Linked DNA regions of Homo sapiens. The protein of the gene in region 3 purifies or fractionates together with the protein of the main gene of each other region. This does not show direct contact. Each region holds a gene or a part of one and is shown on either strand. Other genes may lie near its edges.

Region 1 (7,000 bases), on a different chromosome or scaffold from region 3:
GCTGTGTGCCAACCTTATGTCTTTTACTGAATGAGTGTAAGTTCCTCAGTTGCCTGTTTAGTACATAGCATTGTATCTTGCACATAATAGGTTCTCGGTAAATATTTGCTTCAAAAATCTTTTTTCTTTGAGATGGAGTCTCGCCCACTTCGCGCAGGCTGGAGTGCAGTGGCGCGATCTCGGCTCACTACAACCTCCGCCTCCCGGGTTCAAGCAACTCTCCTTCCTCAGCCTCCCGAGTAGCTGGGATTACAGGCATGTGCTACTACGCCTGGCTAATTTTCATATTTTTAGTAGAGACGGAGTTTCACCATGTTGGTCAGGCTGGTCTCGAACTTCTGACCTCAGGTGATCCACCTGCCTCAGTCTCCCAGAGTGCTAGGGTTACAGGCATGAGCCACTGCGCCAAAAAAAAAAAAAAAAAAAATCTTAGTTGGCCTTGTCTGGTTATTGTAATGCAAAGTTTTTTTTTTTTTTTTTTTTTTTTTAAGGGAAATGGGTATCTCCTTATGTTGCCCGGGCTGGCCTTGAACTCCTAGGCTCAAGCAGTCCTCCAGTCTCAGCCTCCTGAGTAACTGGGACTGCGTTTTTTTGTTTTATTTTGTTTTTAATTTGGTCTTGAAGTGGAGTTATATAGGGTGGGGGGAGGGAGGATGGAGTATGACTTGAGGTGTGGGTTAGGTTCTGAAGCGAGCCTAGATGACAAAATAGCTTACAAGCAAAGCTACCCTTGAAATCTCAGGGAGGCAGCATGTTAATTGTAGGAATACCAGTGTTGCAGAACTCTGACATGGCCAGTGTGATATTGTAAAATACATATTTGGCCTTCATCCCTGTCTCCTGTGGCATATGACTCCTATAATCCTTGAAATCTCCAAAATGATTAGTGTCTTTTTATATGCTAAGGAGCTGACTGATGGCTGGCAGCCCCTAAGTAACTTTAGCATGGGGGCTGGTCACTTGAAAGACCCAGGCAGGATTAGAGGGTTGGGACCTTCAACCAATGTCCAACCTCTGGGGAGAGGAGAAGGCAGACGAGCTGATGACCACCAGCGTCACTGGTTTAATTAGTCATGTCTAAGTAATGAAGCTTCCATAAAAATCCAAAAGACTGGGATTGGGGAGCTTCTGGATAGGTGGACATGAGAGGTTCCTGGATGATGGTGCCCCAGAGAGTGCATGGAAGCTCTGTGCCCTTCCCACATGCCTTGCCCTATGCATTGCTTCATCTGTATCCTTTGTAATATGCTTTTATAATAAACCAGTATATGTAAGTAAAGTGTTCCTCTAAGTTCCTCTAAGTTCTGTGAATTGGTCTAGCAAATTAATAGAACCTAAGGAGGGGGTCATGGGAACCCTGATTAATAGCCAGTTGGTTAGAACTACAGGTAAAACAACCTGATTCTTGTGGTTGGTATCTAAAATGGAGGCTAGTCTTGTGGGACTCACCCCTCAACCTATGGGATCTGACGCGGTCTCCATCCAGGTAGGTAGTGTCAGAATTGAACTGAATTAGAGGACACCCAGCTGGTTGGTGTCTGCTACAGAATTGGTTGGTTGCTTGGTGTGTGGGGACATATCCCTCACAGAATTATACTGTGTTGATTGTTGAGTGAGAGAATAGCAAAAATGCTTTGGTTTGGTTTGGGTTTTTTTTTTCTCTATATCCTCAGGCAAGTTTTATTTCGGCTTTGGAAAAAACTGCTGTTTTTCTTCCTGTGAGCCCCAGATGAAGTTGTTGGTTTGTATTTAGGAGTCACAATATGTAAAAAATACAATGAATACAATCATTCATGCATAGTGAGGGAAGTATTTATATTCAGAGAGGTGCATGTGAATGAGGATCAGCTAAGGGAACCGATATTTAAATTAGTTATCTTTCTTCTAGTGTGTATAGGTGAATTCAAGATAAATGCACATTTGAGACCCTGCCCTTGTGCTATGGAAAGATAAATAAATCAATACTTTTTTTTTAACTTCTTTTTTTTCCCCCTCGCCAGGCAAGGTCGGTCTTGTGCTGTTGCCCAGGCTGTAGTGCAATGGCCCTCATAGCTCACTGTAGCCTGGAACTCCTTGGCTGAAGCCTTCCTCCCACTTCAGCCTCCTAAGTAGTGCACCATCACACCTGGCTAATTTTTAAATATTTTTGTAGAGAGAGAGTCTCACTGTGTTGCCCAGGCTGGTCTTAAATTCCTGGCCTTAAGTGATGCTCCCAGCTTGGCCTCCCACAGCTTTGGGACTGCAGGCATGAGCCACTGTGCCTAGCCTGTTTGTCTGTTTGTTTGTTTGTTTGTTTTTAATAGAGTTGGGGTCTCACCATCTTGCCCAGGCAGGTCTTGAACTCCTGGGCTCAAACAATCCTGCCTTGGCCTCCCAAAGTGCTCAGATTGCAGGTGTGAGCTAGTGCACCAGGCCTTAATTTCTTTTCTTTTTTTTTTTTCTTTTTCTGAGACGGAGTCTTGCTCTATTGCCCAGGCTGGAGTGCAGCGGCGTGAAATCTCAGTTCACTGCAACCTTCGCCTCCTGGGTTCAAGCGATTCTCCTGCCTCAGCCTCCCAGGTAGCTGGCATTACAGGCACATGTCACCACAGCCAGCTAATTTTTGTATTTTTAGTAGAAATGGGGTTTCACCCTGTTGGCCAGGCTGGTCTTGAACTCCTGACCTCAAGCGATCCTCCTGCCTCAGCCTCCCAAAGTGCTAGGATTACAGGTGTGAGCCACCATGCCTGGCTGAATTTCTTATTGTATGTGTTTCATAGATGCCTGAAAGATTATTGCAAAGCTGAATTTTTTATTGTATGTGTTTCATAGATGCCTGAAAGGTTATTGCAAATTGCTCCTTATGATAAACATTTAAAATATGGATTAAATTTCTTTTTCTGTGGTTTAGTTTTTAGATTCTTTTAGTCTCCTTTGCTACCGGAATATGTTAATTAAGCTTTGGTGTTAGAAGATTGACTTCACTTTGCCTAGTAATAAATACTAACAGCGGGCTCTCTGTTAGTAGTTGTTGTTCTCTAAATAAATTTTATGATATAGGAAAAGTCAGCTAAATTTTTAAAAATCTAAATAACTGTATCTTGGTAGAAGTGCCTTCTGGCCAGAAATAAGTCTTTATTTGAAATATAGATGAGTTAGCCAGATGGCAAATTCCTCTTAGTTGCTGTCCTGCATTTTGAAGTACAGTGTGACTTGAACATCAGAGTAAAAAATGTTGGAAAGCAATAATCTATATTTACTCACAAAAGGAAATGGATTGACCTATTGCTTTTGCTACTGAAAGTGAAGCCTTAAAACAACAGAACACAGAAACCTGATTCTGGTGTGTTTTAACATGTACAATCTAATTAATTTTAGAATTAGAAGGATATGGTGGCCAGTGATGTAAACACTCAAGTAGTTTGCCATCACATAATTCAATTCCATAGGAAACCAGATCTCATTACTTTGTGTCATGGCACTAGCTAAATGGAGTCATTTTTCAAGTTAGGAATAGCAATTATTTGGGGAGCAACAATGTAAGTTTTGTATTTTAAAACATGTGTAGTGTGCTATGTAAGAACTGAGCCCATTTTGTCCCACCACCCTGGAAATTAAATGGGACGGTCTCCAATGTAAACCCAGTAGTTCAGTGTTACCAGTTACTTTGGCTTGAAATATAAGAACTTTGTTTTCTTGACGGTCAGGCAGATTTGAAAACCACGTTCTTTATTTGTGCCAATTTGGACTCTAAGTTTGGTGGACAAAGTGAATTTTGAAATGGTTTTAGTTTTCCATGAATTCCCTATTTGAAGAAATTGAATAAATCCTTTAAAAAATAATGTAATGTTTAGTTTGATAATTAAACTTGAGTCACTTTGGAAAACGTGAGTAAAGGAAAGCTGACAGCATTTGTTTACTCTTTCTAAAGTGGAACACAGTAAGGACAAAGTAAGCATTCCTAATGTAAGTCCTCTGCATTCCTACAGGGCTCTTCACAGTTAGAGCCCGTATCCCTGATATCCCTGGGCTGTTTGTCTTTTGATTTGTTTTTAATTACCCTAGCAAACAAAAGGGAAAAAGAAGAGACTTGTGAAAATTTACCTAGACAATAGGAATTAGAAGTCAACACAATCTAATTTTCTAGCTTCTTTGTCTACTTCCAGCAGGTCAGTAAGTTACAGGTACTTATCACCTCTTTCTTGCAGAATAAACAGCCATTGGACTCTTCAAACAAAAACGCTGTCTCCATCAAGTACTGCTTTCGCAGGATAAGTGACCATTTTTAATCAGTTGAAATTAACGGAAAGTAGCAGTTATTTTTGAAAGATGACATCAATTATATAATATAGTAAAGAGATTTAATTTTTAGTCCTTTGTTTCTTACTGCACAAATTGTATGGCGTTTGAATAGAATTCCCATGATACTGACACTTCAGCAAATACTTGCTTGATGGCTACCAATCTCTATAACTTACATTGCACAGTACCTAGGAATATTCATGTGAGTTCATTCCTCCCTGCTCAGATTCTTCAGCTCCTCGTGGTTGGTTTATTCAGTAAGTATTTGAATACCTAATATATGCCAGACACTGTGCTAATAATAATAAGCACTGTGGAGACAAAGAGCTGTTGGAACAGTCACAGATGATAAAACACAAAGAATAAGGGCTGTAGTAGAGTTATGAATGATCATAGCAGGAACACAAAGGAAGGAAATACATATTAACTACTCTAGGAGGTCTTGGAAAGCTTCATAAAGGAGATGGTCTTTAGTCTGATTCTGGGCGGTTGGAGCAGCAGTTTGCATCGGGTGAAAAGAAAGCAAGGGCATTCCTGGCAGAGGGAACAGCCTGAGCAAAGCCATGCAGAGAATGAAGACCTACAGAAGAAAATGCTAATTTGAAAAAAGATGCATAAAGCAGTCTATGTTTTAGTCTAGTCTTTTTAAACTTACAGAAATTTATTACTATGTGTGTCCATCTAACTTGGCTTATTTTCTTTATTTGGGGATCAAGGGAATGCCAGAATTATGATATTAGTTTTATTACTAATTAATTAATTTATTTATTGAGACAGGGTCTCACTCTGTTGCCCAGGCTAGAGCGCAGTGGTGCGATCATGGGTCACTGCAGCCTTAGCCTCCTGGAGTAAATGATCCTCCCACCTCAGCCTGTGAGTAGCTGGGACTACAGGCACACATCACCATGCCTGGCTAGTTTTTTAAATTTTTTGTAGAGATGGGGGGTCTCACTTTGTTGCCCAGGCTGGTCCTCCTGCCTTGGCCTCCCAAAGTGTTGGGATTATAGGCATGAGCCACCATGCCCAGCCTGAATTAAGATATTAGTTTTAAAGAGCAGACTTTTGTAAGTGTGCATTAGTTTTGACAGTGTGACTGTGTTTTCAGGACACCAACCCACTGAGAGCTGATGAGAAATACATTTCTTGTATTTTTCTTTCCCCTGCAACGCTTGCCTTTAAATTTTTTTTTTAAATATGCATTTACTTTATTTCTTATTTTCATTAACCAACTGATTTCTGGTTTTGTCCCTGTGTATAAAAGATTGTAGGCCGGGCACAGTGGCTCATGCCTATAACCCCAGCACTTTGGCAGGCTGAGGTGGGCAGATTGTATTGCTTGAGTCCAGGAGTTTGAGACCAGCCTGGGCAACATGGTGAAACCCTGTTTCACGAAAAAAAAAAAAAAAAAAATTAGCCAGGTGTAGTGGTGCATGCCTGTAGTCCCAGCTATTCGGGAGGCTGAGGCATGAGAACTGCTTGAGCCCAGGAGGCTCTCTGAATTCTTATTTAGGTAGAAATGTAAAATTCTAGGGTTTGTTTTTATTGTTGTTGTTGTTGTTTTTGGCATATTGGAAGATTTTTAAATTTTCTCTTTTAAAAATATAGGCCGGGTGCAGTGGCTCACACCTGTAATCCCAACACTTTGGGAGGCCAAGGCCGGTGGATCACCTGAGGTCAGGAGTTCGAGACCAGCCTGGCCAACATAATGAAAGCCCATCTTTACTAAAAATACAAAAATTAGCCGGGCATGGTAGCACACACCTGTAATCCCAGCTACTCAGGAGGCTGAGGCAGGAGAATCGCTTGAATCTGGGAAGCGGAGGTTGCAGTGAGCCAAGATCGTGCCACTGCACTCCGGCCTGGGCGGCAGAGCGAGACTCTGTCTTAAAAAAAAAAAATTATATATATATAACAAGAATGAAGAGAGACATTTACTGGGACACCAATGGCATTGCCGTATCCTAGTATTTATTTCCCAGGTTTAAATCATATCTAATCTGATAAATTCATTTCCTTCAGACATGATTATTTTTCTCCATCTTATAAAATTAAAGTAACTAGGAATGTTTGGCTCAGAAAAGCAACAAATTAGGAGGAACATGGGAATTGTCTTCAAACAACTGAAGTATGGTCATGTTAGAAAAGATTTGATTCTTTTTGTATAGTCCCAGTGGATTGAACCTATGTATTGAATTTATAGTAAAACAGATTTCAGTTCAGTTTAAGGAAGAACTATCCTAACAGTCAAATCTGCTTAGAGAGGGAGTTGGCTGCCTAGGAAGGGAATGCAGTGGTCCCTCTTGAAGTTTTAATATATGAGTTGGATGACCTTCTCCTGGGTGTGTATGGTAAATTCAGATGTCGAGTGGATTATCATATTAGGTGGGCTATAAGGACTATCCCACCCTGAATTATTTACTAGGAAAAATGGGTGATGGAAAGAAACCAGATGATTAATACAGGATGAGAAAGGAGACACGGTTAATAGGGGATAAGAAAGGGGGAAATTGAGGGTTCGGAATGTCTCTCCCAACCATTAGAGCCCTAGAAAGTTCACGTTTTCTCTGCCAGAGACATTTAAGAAATTGTTGGCTCTGGTTTCATAAGAGGTTGTTCTGTAGAACTTGAGGAATTTTTGGCATTTTCACAGAGACTGAACAGTTCTGCTTCAGTAATGAGCCTCTGGCTGGAGTCATTGAGTGCTGCTAAATCAGAAGTG
Region 2 (3,879 bases), on a different chromosome or scaffold from region 3:
ATTAGTTCATCTACAGGATTTGATCTTAGCTTGAAGACTATTGATGCTGATGGTTCCCAGGGCAGTTGTTTGAAGGCTGCAGGACAGAGGTCCAGCAATGCCAAAGAGGGGCGGTCATCATGACAAACTACACTACTGAACTAATTGAAACTGGACTCAGGAGACCTCATCTAATGTGTAGAATTCTCATTGATTACAACTTTTATCAGATATCTTTCATGACTAGAATACAATTTAAGCTAATTATTTTCCTGTTTAAACCTAGGCCTGTGATACTTGGGCTGTGATCCTCTAGAGCCAGCTTGGACTCACATCATTCTATGGGGTTGAAGACAACTCATTCCCTCTGAGGAGCCTTGTACATACAAGCCTTTTATTTATAACTTATTTTGTATTGAAACTTTTAAACAATACTGAAGAAAAAAAAACTTTTCCGACATCTGTTCTTGGTCTTTTGTGACGCAGGTTGAAGGGGGAGGAATAGAAAAAGACAAACTGCCTTGGAGGAGATAAACCAATTTTATGTCTATCATGTTATACAAAAATCTAGAAATAATAGATTTGTACAGAAAAAAATGATAATAAATGAGAACACAAAACATATAATTTAAATTTGGTATTTTTTCCCCCATGATATTAGGATGATAATCATTTCAAAGCACATGTCTAGCTTCAGAGTAGGATTTGTTCACTGGCCAAAGCCTGCCATGAAACTATGGCTTTCAGCATCTGTCTGCTCTACTGGCTCTTGACAAAACTCTTGAGGTCTTCAAGAAAAGTAATGTACTCCTGGTGCTCCAGGGCTGTGCTGAGCTCCACCAGCTCATCTGCAAAAGTGTTGTCCACCCCTCGGTCGGCAAGGAAATCCATTAGGTGGTCATATAAGGCCTGCAAAGAACAATATTTACTAGTTAAAAAAAAATCTGTAATGAACATTAAAATGCTTTTTTCTCCCCTTGAACTAGGACCCTTCCTTCCAAGGCCCAAAAGGTTCCCCCACCTTATCAAGCACTCACCCAGTCCAAGGAATCTGTGTTGAGTGTATAATTAGTATCCTTCCATTCAGACTCGCCAGTGGACTGAAAGCTAACTTCCCTGATAGAGAAGATGTCACTCTCAGCCTCGTCTTCTTGTCCAACCTGAGAAGAAACAATATTGGGAAACTGAAGGGTTCTCCAGGACAAGCTAGACTCAGGGGAAGAAAGGGGGCCACTGACAGCATGAAACTCATCAGGTTTTAACCCTCTTCCCTCACTCCCCACCTCTCTCCCCCTGCTGGGCTGGTCTAAGCTAGAAAAGTGTTTAAATTTCTGCTAAAATAGGGACAGGAAGTTCCCAAGGGACACACTGTTCCCCAGGGGTGCCAAGAGGCTAGCACTCCATCCTGCATACCTCATCCTCTGGATAATGACAGTCCAACACAAGGGCCTTCTTGCCATCATCATTCTTTATAACTTCAACCACGAAATTGGGAGTTGATGTCAGTTCAGGCTGGGGAAACAAGAAGTCAATACATGCTGCTGCTGGAAGGAGATGGATGGCTGGATCAAGGATCTCTGTTCAGAGTGTCTGATGGCCACCACTATTAGGATATTATGTAGCCATTTGAATAGTCTTATGCCATACTATTCCCAAATGAAGAGCTTGATCTCACTTCTGTTGGCACCCTGCTTGGTTAAATAACACACTGGGTTTTCAGTTAAGAAATGTGGATACCAGCCTCAGCTATGTGCCAATTAACTGAGTTTATATCAGTCCCTTAACATTCCAAGCCTTTTCCTCCACCCGTACACTGCAAAGCTTTCCTAAAGTTTCAAGATCTCTTTCCAGCTTGACTGTTCCAGGAGTCTTCATAAGGGACCAGGGTCAAAGGCTGGGGAACCTGGCCATCCTTATGGCTGAATAACAGCAGCAGCTTTTCCTCTGATGCGGAGCTCTGGGAGCAGACTGGGTCCAACGTCAGGGAGATGCTAGTTGGGGTGGCTGGGAAAGCAGCACACCAGAGAGCTGCGCCGTCCACACCAGGTCATGACCCAACACTGTACTGATGGCTCTTGGGCAGAATGTCTAGGGACTCTGTGGCCCTCATACTGGCTGGTTACTAGGCTGGGCACAGCACTTCCTGAAATGTTTGAAGAGTAGGCATGATCCAGTTAAAGTCTCTTATGCCCCTGCCATTCTCTCTCTCTTTTTTTTTTTTTTTTTTTTTTGAGACAGAGTCTTGCTCTGTCGCCAGGCTGGAGTGCAGTGGTGTGATCTTGGCTCACCGCAACCTCTGCCTCCCGGGTTCAAGCGATTCTCCTGCCTCAGCCTCCCGAGTAGCTGGGATTACAGGGACCTGCCACCATGCCCAGCTAATTTTTGTATTTTTAGTAGAGACGGGGTTTCACCATGTTGGCCAGGATGGTCTCGATCTCTTGACCTCGTGATCTGCCCGTCTCGGCCTCCCAAAGTGCTGGGATTATAGGCGTGAGCCATGCGACTGGACTTAGAGGAATTTTTTTTTTTTGAAAGACCAAAGAAAAACGCTCCTCCTCTAAGCCCCAGGCACAGCCTGTCAGAACTGAGGTAAAAGCTGATTATAGTATTAGCTTACCTCCTGTTCTTCAACCTTCTGCCCTTGCGAGGGTTCCTCCTCACCATCAAATGTTGGTGGGATGCTGTTGTTAATGTTGAAAGTGACCGTGATTCTAAAACGGCAAGGGAAAACAGACAAGGCAAAACAGACAAGGCATGGTTTTAACCGAGCAGGTTAACACATAAACATGGAAATCTGCTACAGTTAAAAAGGCGTATTGAAACAATGTCTCTGTCCTAGCTGGCTGAATTATATGCAGAACTTCAAACTAGGCTGGGTGCCTACATCCAATCCTGAGTGACTCAGCAGGTCTGAAGTGTGCCTACCATGTACCAGCTGCTGGAAGCCAAAGCTGGCCTCAGTTTATCTCAGCCAAACAAGTCATGCATGGGTTACTCCCAACAGGGCCAGTACCCCAGGGCTCACTGCCATGTGCTGACTGGGCATCTCATGGCCACAGCCAGCTGACACTGCCCACCCTGGTCTTTCCAGGGAACCCTTGGTCAAAGTAAGGACCTGAGAGGCTGGTGAGATGGAACAGAAGCCCCTTTAAGAGACTTTCCCCGTCAGAAAATTTGCCCTGCAAGGAAAGGAAGAAGCGATGGAGGGTGCCTCTGCTAAACACCGAGAGCAGCCCTGGAACGGGGAAGGGAATGCCTCACAAAGAACAAGGGCTGTAGTAGAGACTCATCCCTTAGAGTACTTGTGGGAAGTTTCATAATCACAAAGCAGGCCAGACACACCAACTAGTGACAATTTTAAGGTGCAAGAATCCACACCTGACAAATCATGTTCCAAAGTTTGAGTCAAAATTCTTGGGACATAAGGTTTAGAACCAAAACTGCTGGGCTATGCAACTCTGGCAGGCACCATTCCACACAAGAGTACATGAAGGCTGGGCGCAGTGGCTCACGCCTGTAATCCCAGCACTTTGGGAGGCCGAGGTGGGCAGATCACGAGGTCAAGAGATCGAGACCATCCTGGCCAACACGATGAAACTCCATCTCTACTAAAAAATACAAAAAAAAAAAAAAAAAAAAAATTAGCTGGGCGTGGTGGTACGCGCCTGTAATCCCAGCTACTCAGGAGGCTGAGGCAGGAGAATTGCTTGAACCTGGGAGGTGGAGGTTGCAGTGAGCCGAGATCACGCCACTGCTCTCCAGCCTGGAGACACAGCAAGACTCTGTCAGAAAAAAAAAAAAAAAAAAAAGAGTACATGAAGTGCCGCCCTCCACTTGTGCTAACTAGCTGCTCTGCCAGGAAGCCACCTTTCCATGGCAACAGAGGCAGTCTGAGGTTGA
Region 3 (9,782 bases):
GGCAGAAGCTGCAGTGAGCCAAGATTGCACCACTACACTCCAGCCTGGGCAACAGAGCAAGACTCTGTCTCAAAACAAAAAAAAAAGGATTATCAACCAAACACATAGTGTGAACCTTAATTGTAGCTTGATTCAAAAAGTGAAGTGAAGATACTGGGGCAGCAGGGAGACACTGGACATACACAAGATACACAAGGTATAATGATTTTGAGGCTTCGTTTTTGAAACTCTTATTTTAAAACATTGTGATTAAGGAGTATTCTAAAGATTTCCCTTTAAAATATTTCAATAAAAAAGGGGGGACACTTAAAAGAATGGCAAAATATCGGAACTAACGTGAATGTTATATATATTACAAACCCATTATAATGGCCACTTATAAAAGTGGCTCAAAAACAAATGATTTTAATTCTATTTAAAAAGTGTGTCAGTAGGCCCCCAACTATCACCACAAAGATAAAAACACAAAGATGCAAAAATACATCCTAAATCCAATTTTTGAGTGTTCAATGCCTGGATATACTTACATTAGAGCTAAAAGCTATGCTTCTTTGCTGGGTAGGTTTTTCATTGGGATTTCGAGTTCCATCTTCTGTTACCTTTTCCGACAGCTAGACAGGTTAAGAAAAAGTGTAATTTTAAAACACATACCCTTGGTTTCTAAATCCTATATTAAAAAATAGCCTAATTGTAAACAAAATTTAGCTGTAGACACAAAAATCAACTTGGATCTAACAGCCTAAGTAACAGAACTATTGAGTTTTCCCCTTAACAAAACTGATTTAATATTAGGCTTAAGACACTCTTCCCATAATTATTTTACTTCCCTGCTGGCAAATTTAAACTAATTTTTTAATCAGTTTTCTCAGGTTGAATCAAGTTCACTTTTGAAATGTAAAGCCACATCAGAAAATACGTTTTAAGAAACTAAGGCATTTGCCAGTTAGGCACCTAATCGTCTGAACAAAGACCTTGTCTACTAATACTGAGCAAACCCACATCTGGGCCCAATTACACAGATTCATTTAGATACAGCATTTTTTTTTTTTAAGCCCCCGAGACGGGAGTCTTGCTCTGTCACCCAGGCTGGAGTGAAAAGTACAGTGCAATTTGCTAATGCACATCCTGCACATTTCTGGAGAATTATAATAAACTTATCTGCAAGTGAAGCAGGCCTCCTCTTCTGTAATCTCTCAAAACATCTGGAATATATTGCATATATTATGAAAGGGACATCTTTTTCACAGATGCCCCACCGTTACAACGTGTACCTTTGCTTAGTTTAAAAATTGACTTTAATACTTTATGCAAATAGTGCCTGTCCCAAATTCTAGCATGCACATGGATCTACCAACAAAAAAACTAAGTTTTCAGTGTGTGAACATAAACTTCAAATTAAACCTCTGATGCTTTAGCCCATGTATCAATTACCAACAGATTTTCTTCATCAATGTCTGCAGACCACATTCATGATTTCTATAAGACAGAAATAGAGCAGATAAACTATACTGTATATGCTGAGTACAGAATTTGTGGGAACATAATGCTGCAAATGAAAGCTACAAACACTCTGTAAATAGCTTAGAAAAACTAGTAATAGAAATCACCAAAGTACCAGCTAATAACGGTGTTATAAGAGTACACTGTTAACTGAAAATGAAAAAAATAAATGTATTTTTTGAGACAGGGTCTCGCTCTGCTGCCCAGGCTAGAGTGCAATGGTGCCATCTTGGCTCACTGCAACCTTAGCATCCTAGGCTCAAAGATCCTCCTGCCTCAGCCTCCCAAACAGCTGGGACTACAGGCATGCACCACCATGCCTGGCTAATTTTTGTATTTTTTGTAAACACGCGGTTTTGCCACATTGCCCAGGCTAGTCTTGAACTCCTGGACTCAAGCCATCTGCCTCATTACAGGCATGAGGCACCATGCACGGCCAAATAAAGCTCATTAATCTCCCATTTTCATGGGTTTGACATTGCCTATCTTCAGATTTGCTACTTTGAATTTAGCACATTATATACATCTCTAGACTTCCCAAAAAGTATAGTCTAAGATATAAGTGGCTAATCAGATTTGACAGTTGGCTTTCTGAAAGTTTTGTTCCGACAAACCTAGAATACTTACTTCAGGCTTTGCACCATTACTTGATACACCTATTCCACGGCTTGTTTCTTTGGCTGAAGGAACAGTTCTGAGACTAGCTGGCAAGTCAATGTTGGTTGTTCCTAGAGCTTTCGCTGCATTGGTTTTTGCTATTTCTAACAGCTCCATTCGATCTAAAAAAAAAAGAGAGAGATTTTAAAATACTCATTAATCTGGTAGTTATTTCCCAAGAGAACTCAGAATTACACAATAAATATGTTATTTTGTGGTATTAAATATATTAAGTCACTTGTTTTATAATAGGTAAACTAAGGTTGCCCTTGAACACTAGTAGCTGCGCTGGTCCACTTTATACTTGTTTTTTCTCCCCCTTACTAAATGCAGATAGAAAGTACCACAGTGTTTGAGAGACTGTAAACCCCAAGTGTGCGCGAGGGTTCCATATGCATCCTGGCACCAATCCCCCGAGTGAACAGAGGGACAACTGTGTAACTTTATTCACTGAAAATTCTATTCTCCAGCTCATTTCTTGCTGAAAAGAATAAAATTCTTAAATTATCTCAACAATTAGTTTTGTTTTCTTGACTAAAGGCCTGAGCGTCCTATTATTTTGTCTTTTTGTTGTACTTAATTTTCTCTAGCTAATAGTGATATTATTTTGCTTTCTCTTCAAAGATGTATTTCTGAAAACCAGGTTTTTCTGCTGTAGATTCTTTATATAATTATCACAACCACTGAACCAATACTGATACACTACTAAAGTGTATTTCTACCACCACCCCCGGCTAATTTTTGTACTTTTACTAGATAGTGAGCTATGTTGGCCAGGCTGGTATGGAACGCCTGGCCTCAAGTGACCCACCCGCCTCCGCCTCCGCCTCCCCAAGTGCTGGGATTACAGAGGTGAGCCGCCGCGCCCGGCCTCCTAGGTCACTTAGGATACTCGACAATCCAATTTTATTCAGTAATAATGTCAACTAAAAGAAGGCGTGTTTTGATATTGTTCTTCCCAATCACGTTAACTTAGAACCTTTAACTTAATCATAACATTTAAAAGGCTCCACCCACTAAGAACAGTCAGCCAATAGGAAAAAAAGTTCCCTACATCCTGAGCCATTTAACATCCAGTTGACCTTTAACCCTAAAGAGAATGCTGTCCACTTAAATACAGGTAATGTCCTCCCTCTTTCCTCCAAAAAGATTTCGGGCACTAAAGGAACTAATATTGAAACTACACAGCAACGTTGGTTCCCTAGCCTACTCATATACTGCCACCATACATTACCACAAATGGAAAGGTAAATGACCCACCCACCTTTTTCACTTAAGCGAAAGGGGGTTCTGCTCCGCGACCTCGTCCTGGATCTGTCCCTCCATCTGCTGTGCTCCTCCGGGTACACTGTGCGACCAAAGCCGTAGTAGCGCTGTCCCCGCGCGATCGCGTACGCCCTTCCGCAGTACGACCTTCCCCGAGAGCGCGACCTGCTACGGGACCGGGACCGGTACCGCGAAGGAGACCGGTAGTATCTCCTGGTGAACCCGTAGCGCCTCTCTCGGTAACGGCGGCTGCGGGATCGCGACCGGCTCCGCGAGTATGACCGCGAGTAGCGCCTGTACTTCCGCTGGTGGCGCCTTCGGGAACGGGACCTGGACTTGCTCCTCCGACTCCTGGACGAAAACCGGCTCGAGACGCGGGAATGGGACCGAGAGCTTCTGGAAAAAGAGCGGCTCCTAGACCGCGACGACAGCCGGCTGGACCCGCCCGACCGCGAGGTCGAGGGCGAATCCTTCTCCTGCGGCGAGCCCGGCCACATGTCGTTCACGTAGTTGGACATCTTCACCTGCGGCTTTAGCCTGCGCTTTCTCCGGAAAGGATCCCGCAAGCCTCAACTCAGGACTTCCTAAAAAACCAAGAGAGAAAAAACAAGTCGAGTCGCGGAAGCCGGCGCCTGGCCACCCGGAAGCCACAGTCGGGGAACCTCCGGGAGGCGGAGCCACGGCGCGGGCGGCGACCGCCGCGACAGGAACCGAGCCCTAGAAACCCCGCTCGGCGCCCTGAGGCCGCGGCCTTGAAGCGAAACGCTGCGTTCCCCAAACGCGGGGCCCGGCACGTTTCCCGTCCCTCACTCCTGAGAGACCACTGCGGTGGTCCTGAGAGACCCCGTCAGCAGAAAACTTACCGCACGCCGTCGACGCCTCCCTCACGACTGAGAGAAAGGCTCAACAGACGCCTTCCTTTCGGAACGTAAGACGAAGTGGGGCTTTTAGTCCCTGCTTTCGAACGGCGAATTCCACAACCTCCACCTCCTACGTCCGGATGCGCACTGAGGGACTACGTTAGCAGACGCGTCAAAAGTACCAGAAGCTGGCCCCCGGCGCATGCGCAGAGATGTTCCGTGGTGGGCGCGGCTCTTCTCTTGCCCAACCACCGCCCTGCCTCCTCCCTCCCCAAGCCGCGCCCTGTGCCTCGAGCGCTTGCCTCCAGGGTGCGCATGCGCGATGGGGCTCCAGGGGGAGGTGTTTGATACATCAGGGTGTCCCGTTGCCCTTGGCTTCCCCCCTGATCTGAGATAATTGCGGGACCGACCCAGTCACCAGAAAACTTCGAAGATGGAACGGCCCCGCGTGGGGCTACACCAGGCTCTGGCCTCACTGCACGGGCGGGGCTGGACGTCAGTGCCGGGCGGGGAGTAGGGCCGGGAGAGGAGCGGCTGCAGGCTGGAGAGGGCTCGCAGCCGGGCTCGGAGCTGGGGCCGTCTGACGGGCTGGTGCCCACAGGGTCGTTGCCGCCACCCACCGGCAAGTCGCAGACCCGGCCTGAGCCTCCCTGGACCCTTCCTGGCCTCTTCCTCCTGTCCTAGGTACCGCGGCGCCAGGAGAAGGCGACCGCGTCCACACCCCGCCATGACAGAGAGGGGACCTCACCCTCCCCCGGAACACCCCAAGACCCCTGGAAATGCAGTATTAACGTAGAAAAGATGTTTTACTTCCATGTTTTGGCTAGGAAGGTAATAAGGTCGAGACAAAATAAAAAGACTCAAAACTGACCTTTAATCTGGGGATAATAATGAAGTCTGCGATATCTCTTCCAAAAACTGTGTTTGGTGTGAGTGTAAACAAAGGTGACTATTTTACTTCTAGGGATCTACAAATGGGATGCATTTCAAACACTTCTTGTAATAAAGCATAACAATTGCCTTGAAAATTGTGGGTTAATTGCCTTTTTTTTTTTTTTTTTTTTTGAGACAGGGTCTCACTCGCCCAGGCTGGAGTGTGGTGGGGCCATCACGGCTCACTGCAGCCCAGGCTCCCGAAGAGCTGGAACTACAGGCATGCACCACCATGCTAATTTTTGCACTTTTTTACCCACGGGATCTAACTGTGTTGCCCAGGCTGGTCTCCAACTCCTGGGCTCAAGCGATTCTTCCGCCTCAGCCTCCTGAAGTTTTGGGATTACAGGCGTGAGCCACTTTGCCCAGCCTATACACTTCTTTACAAGTACATTTTGACAAAAGCCACTTTCTTTAGAGGGAGACACAAACTCACTCATCTCTTGTTCATCTTCACCCCACATCTCCGCAGTTCATCCACATCTCCTGAGGATGCATCATGATGGAAGTAGTTCTTAAACAGTTTCTTCTCTAAATCTCAAGACAGTGAAGATACAATGCCCATCCATCAGAAACCTTTGCCGAAAGTTCTCATAAAGCTGTGTGAGTGGACAGAAAAATAACACGAGGCCAGTCGCGGTGGCTCACGCTTGTAATTCCAGCACTTTGGGAGGCCGAAGCGGGAAGATCACCTAAGATCAGGAGTTCGAGATCAGCCTGGCCAACATGGCAAAACCCCATCTCTACTAAAAATGCAAAAATTAGCTTGACATGGTGGCGGGCGCCTGTAATCCCAGCTACTCGGGAGGCTGAGGCAGGAGAATTGCTTGAACCTGAGAGGCGGAGGTTGCAGTGAGCTGAGATTGCAACACTGCAACCCAACCTGGGCAACAGGAGCAAAACTCCGTCTGGAAACAAATAATAATAATAACAACACGAGTTTCACATTTGACAAGTATAAAAATGATGTGTTGGGGAACTAAAGTATACTTACGATACAGTTTTGAGCTCTTGGTTATGAATAGGAAAGGATGGAACAAGTCTCCGTAGACAGTTCAAAGTATCAGTCAATGTGTGCCTAAAAAATGGTGACCAGAAAAATCCTAATTTTTTTTTTTTAAGACAGTCTCGCTTTGGCGCCCAGGCTGGAATGCAGTGGTGTGATCTTGGGCTCACTGCAACCTCTGCGTACTGGGTTCACACAATTCTTGTGCCTCAGTCTCCCGAGCATCTGGGTTTACAGACGTGCACCATCATGCCCAGCTAATTTTTTTTGTATTTTTAGTAGAGATGGGTTTTCACCATGTTGGCCAGGCTGGTCTTGAACTCCTGACCTCAAGTGATCTGCCTGCCTCGGCCTCCCAAAGTGCTGGGATTACAGGCGTGAGCCACTGTGCCCAGCAAATCCTGGATATTAACAGGATTTTGGAAACAGTGGGAAACATTACTTTGCCCTCGTGCAGAATGCTGGTGTATTTGTCTCAAAAACATACGCGGTCTACCTGAGTTAAAGTCTGCAAAGTCACCTTCCTTTATTTCTCTAAACAGTATATATTCTCTGAGCATCTATCCACTCACCTAATGAAAAAAATTCAACTTTAGTTATTAGAACATCTAGCACCGAATTTGTAGGCTAATGTAGGCAGAAATAACATCTTTACAATAGCAAATCTTCCCATCTAAGAATGTGACAATGTTGTAACCAAGCGAGATAGAGAAACGCCACACTTGGAGACAAATTGTGGAGTCCTTTATTAGCCGGCAACCGGGAGACAGCTAGCGCTCAAAATTCTCTCGGCCCTGAAGAAGGGGCTAGATTTTCTTTTATACTAAGGTCTAAATAGGGGAGGGGGGTTTAACTGAAGCAGTTTTACAGAAGCAGAATAGGCAAAAAGTTAAAAAAGTTAATTGGTTATAGAAGCAGTTACAAAAAATAAACAGTTCCAGGTACAGGGGCTTAAACTATCACTAAGAGATAAATGCGGGGGCTTTAGGTACCTTCCACCGAGCACATTCCCAGGAGCTGCTGGTACAGCTTGCCTCAATATCTTATCAGCAGGTGAATTCCTGGATGTGCTTGGAGTCAGCTTGCACTAGTTACTCCCTTAGGGGGATAAAGAGGGCTGCAAGCAAAGAAACTAAAATGGAGTCTGTCCGGCTCTGTCTGCTAGGAGAGAGTCACTCAGGTTTAAACAAGGTAGGGTATCACAACAAGTTTTAAATGTGCCATTTAAGTTGGTTTTTTGTTTATGTCCTTCATTATGGTTGGCAAACCAATCGCCTCCCAAACATGTCCATTCCCTAATTTCCTGGAACCTGTGAATATGTTACCTTAAGGTGACAAAAGGAATTATGCAGATGTAATTAAGGTTAAGGATCTGGAGATGAGATTATTCTGAAGTATCTGGGTAGGCCCAATCTAATCTCAGGAGAGAGTCAAAGCATGAGAAGAATTCCATGCCCTGTTGCTGCTTCTGAAATGTAGGGGCGGGCCAGGCGCGGTGGCTCACGCCTGTAATCCCAGCACTTTGGGAGGCCAAGGCAGGCGGATCACCAGGTCAGGCATTTGAGACCAGCCTGGTCAACTTGGTGAAACCCCATCTCTACTAAAAACACAAAAATTAGCCGGGCGAGGTGGCGTCCGCCTGTAATCCCAGCTACTCAGGAGGCTGAGGCAAGAGAATCACTTGAATCCAGGAGGCGGAGGTTGCAGTGAGCTGAGATCACACCACTGCACTTCAGCCTGGGCAACACAGCGAGACTCCAACTCAAAGAAAAAAATAATTAAAAAAAAAAAAGAAAGAAAGAAATGTAGGGGCTTATGTGCAAGGGCAGGGAAAGAACTCTAGGGGCTAATGGTGGCTTCCAGCTGACAGCCAGGAAACAGACCTCAATCCCACATCATAGAACTGAATTCGGCCAACACATGGATGAGCTAGTGTTGGGGATCTTCCCCTAGAGCCTCCAAAAAGAAACAAAATGTGACTGACACCTTGACTTTAATCTGGTGAGACTCCTCACCTATAGAACTATGAGATATTAAATTTAGGTTGTTTTAAGCCACTAACATTATGGTTATTTATTACCACAGCAATAGGAAAATAAAACATTCAGTATAATTTATAGTTTTCCTTTTTTTTTTCTTTTTTGAGACGGAGTTTCACTCTGTTGCCCAGGCTGCAGTGCAATGGCTTGATCTTGGCTTACTGCAACCTCTGCCTCCCGGATTCAAGCAATTCTCCTGCCTCAGCCTCCTGAGTAGCTGGGATTACAGGCTTGTGCCATCATGCCTGGCTTATTTTGTATTTTTAGTAGAGACGGGGTTTCTCCATGTTGGTCAGGCTGATCTCCAACTCCCAACCTCAGGTGATCCGCCCACCTCAACCTCCCAAAGTGCTGGGATTACAGGCGTGAGCCACTGCGCCCGGCTCAAAGTTAATATTTTTGTTAATTTTAATGACAAAACTAATTTTTTATCAGGTAAAGGAATCCAAAGATGTATACAAGCTAACGATCATTCCCTAGAGGTATAGAATCCTCTAAAAGAGGTCTCCATCCTTCTTCCTCATATCTTAGAGATAACCAATGTTAACAGTTTAACGAGTGCCCTTCCACAGTTTTCTTCAAGACATGTCAAATATACCCACATATAGATTTTTTTTTTTTTTTTGAGACAGAGTCTCGCTCTCTTGCCCAGACTGAAGTGCAGTGGTGCAATCTCGACTTACTGCCACCTCTGCCTCCCTGGTTCAAGTGATTCCCATGCCCCAGCCTCCCAAGCAGCTGGGAGTACAGGTGCACGCCACCACGCCTGGCTAATTTTTGTTGCTGTTGTTGTTTTGTGAGACAGAGTCTCACTCTCTCACTCAGGCTGGAGTGCAGTGGCATGATCTCGGTTCACTGCAACCTCCCTCTCCCAGGTTCAAGTGATTCTCGTGCCTCAGCCTCCCAAGTAGCAGGGATTACAGGCACATGCACCACAGCTGGCTAATTTTTTTTTTTTTAGTAGAGACATGTTCTGTGTGGGGAGTGCACAGGTACAAGCAAACACACAGCACTCACACATAAGTGCAGATTGTAAACTACTTTAGGTTCATTTAAGTATAAAATAGAAGGTGCATTGAGCAAATAGCAGTGAGGAAAAAAAAACAATCAGCATATATACACTCACCAGACAATGGAGGATTCATCACCAGACCGGGAAGCAACAGCCTAGGCTCCAGAGTCAGCCACTGGTCCATGCACAGAGAAGGAGAGGTCTCGTGGAGCTTCAGCGTAGTCTGGGACCCTGACCTTTTTTTTTTTTTTTTTTGAGACGGAGTTTCACTCTTGTTGCCCAGGCTGGAGTGCAATGGCACGATCTCGGCTCACTGCAACCTCCGCCTCCTGGGTTCAAGGGATTCTCCTGTCTGAGTCTCCTGAGTAGCTGGGATTACAGGCGCCAGCAACTACGCCCAGCTAATTTTTGGTATTTTTAGTAGGATGGGGGTTTCACCATGTTGGCCAGGCTGGTCTCGAACCTCTGACCTCAGGTGATCCGCCCACCTTGGCCTCCCAAAGTGCTGG

What was found. Proteins that work in one complex are often made in the same cells at the same time.
Region 1: the proteins of RSRP1 (region 3) and PSME3IP1 purify together in Homo sapiens (affinity purification with mass spectrometry; 4 studies listed by BioGRID and IntAct, with this or other methods). This does not show direct contact.
Region 2: the proteins of RSRP1 (region 3) and C1QBP purify together in Homo sapiens (affinity purification with mass spectrometry; 5 studies listed by BioGRID and IntAct, with this or other methods). This does not show direct contact.

What each region holds. Positions count from the first base shown.
Region 1 is NC_000016.10:57,176,040-57,183,039, reverse strand, and holds part of PSME3IP1 (PSME3-interacting protein), read left to right. Parts: intron 1-489; exon of another isoform or gene 490-1,423; coding exon of another isoform or gene 1,424-1,486; intron 1,487-4,187; exon of another isoform or gene 4,188-4,538; intron 4,539-5,886; exon of another isoform or gene 5,887-7,000. UniProt on the Homo sapiens protein: Promotes the association of the proteasome activator complex subunit PSME3 with the 20S proteasome and regulates its activity.
Region 2 is NC_000017.11:5,432,277-5,436,155, forward strand, and holds the end of C1QBP (complement component 1 Q subcomponent-binding protein, mitochondrial precursor), read right to left. Parts: intron 2,691-3,879; coding exon 2,597-2,690; intron 1,492-2,596; coding exon 1,393-1,491; intron 1,140-1,392; coding exon 1,017-1,139; intron 889-1,016; coding exon 739-888; 3' UTR 501-738; downstream 1-500.
Region 3 is NC_000001.11:25,243,023-25,252,804, forward strand, and holds the start of RSRP1 (arginine/serine-rich protein 1), read right to left. Parts: upstream 4,433-9,782; 5' UTR 4,287-4,432; intron 4,008-4,286; 5' UTR 3,942-4,007; coding exon 3,422-3,941; intron 2,280-3,421; coding exon 2,128-2,279; exon of another isoform or gene 612-2,127; coding exon 528-611; intron 1-527.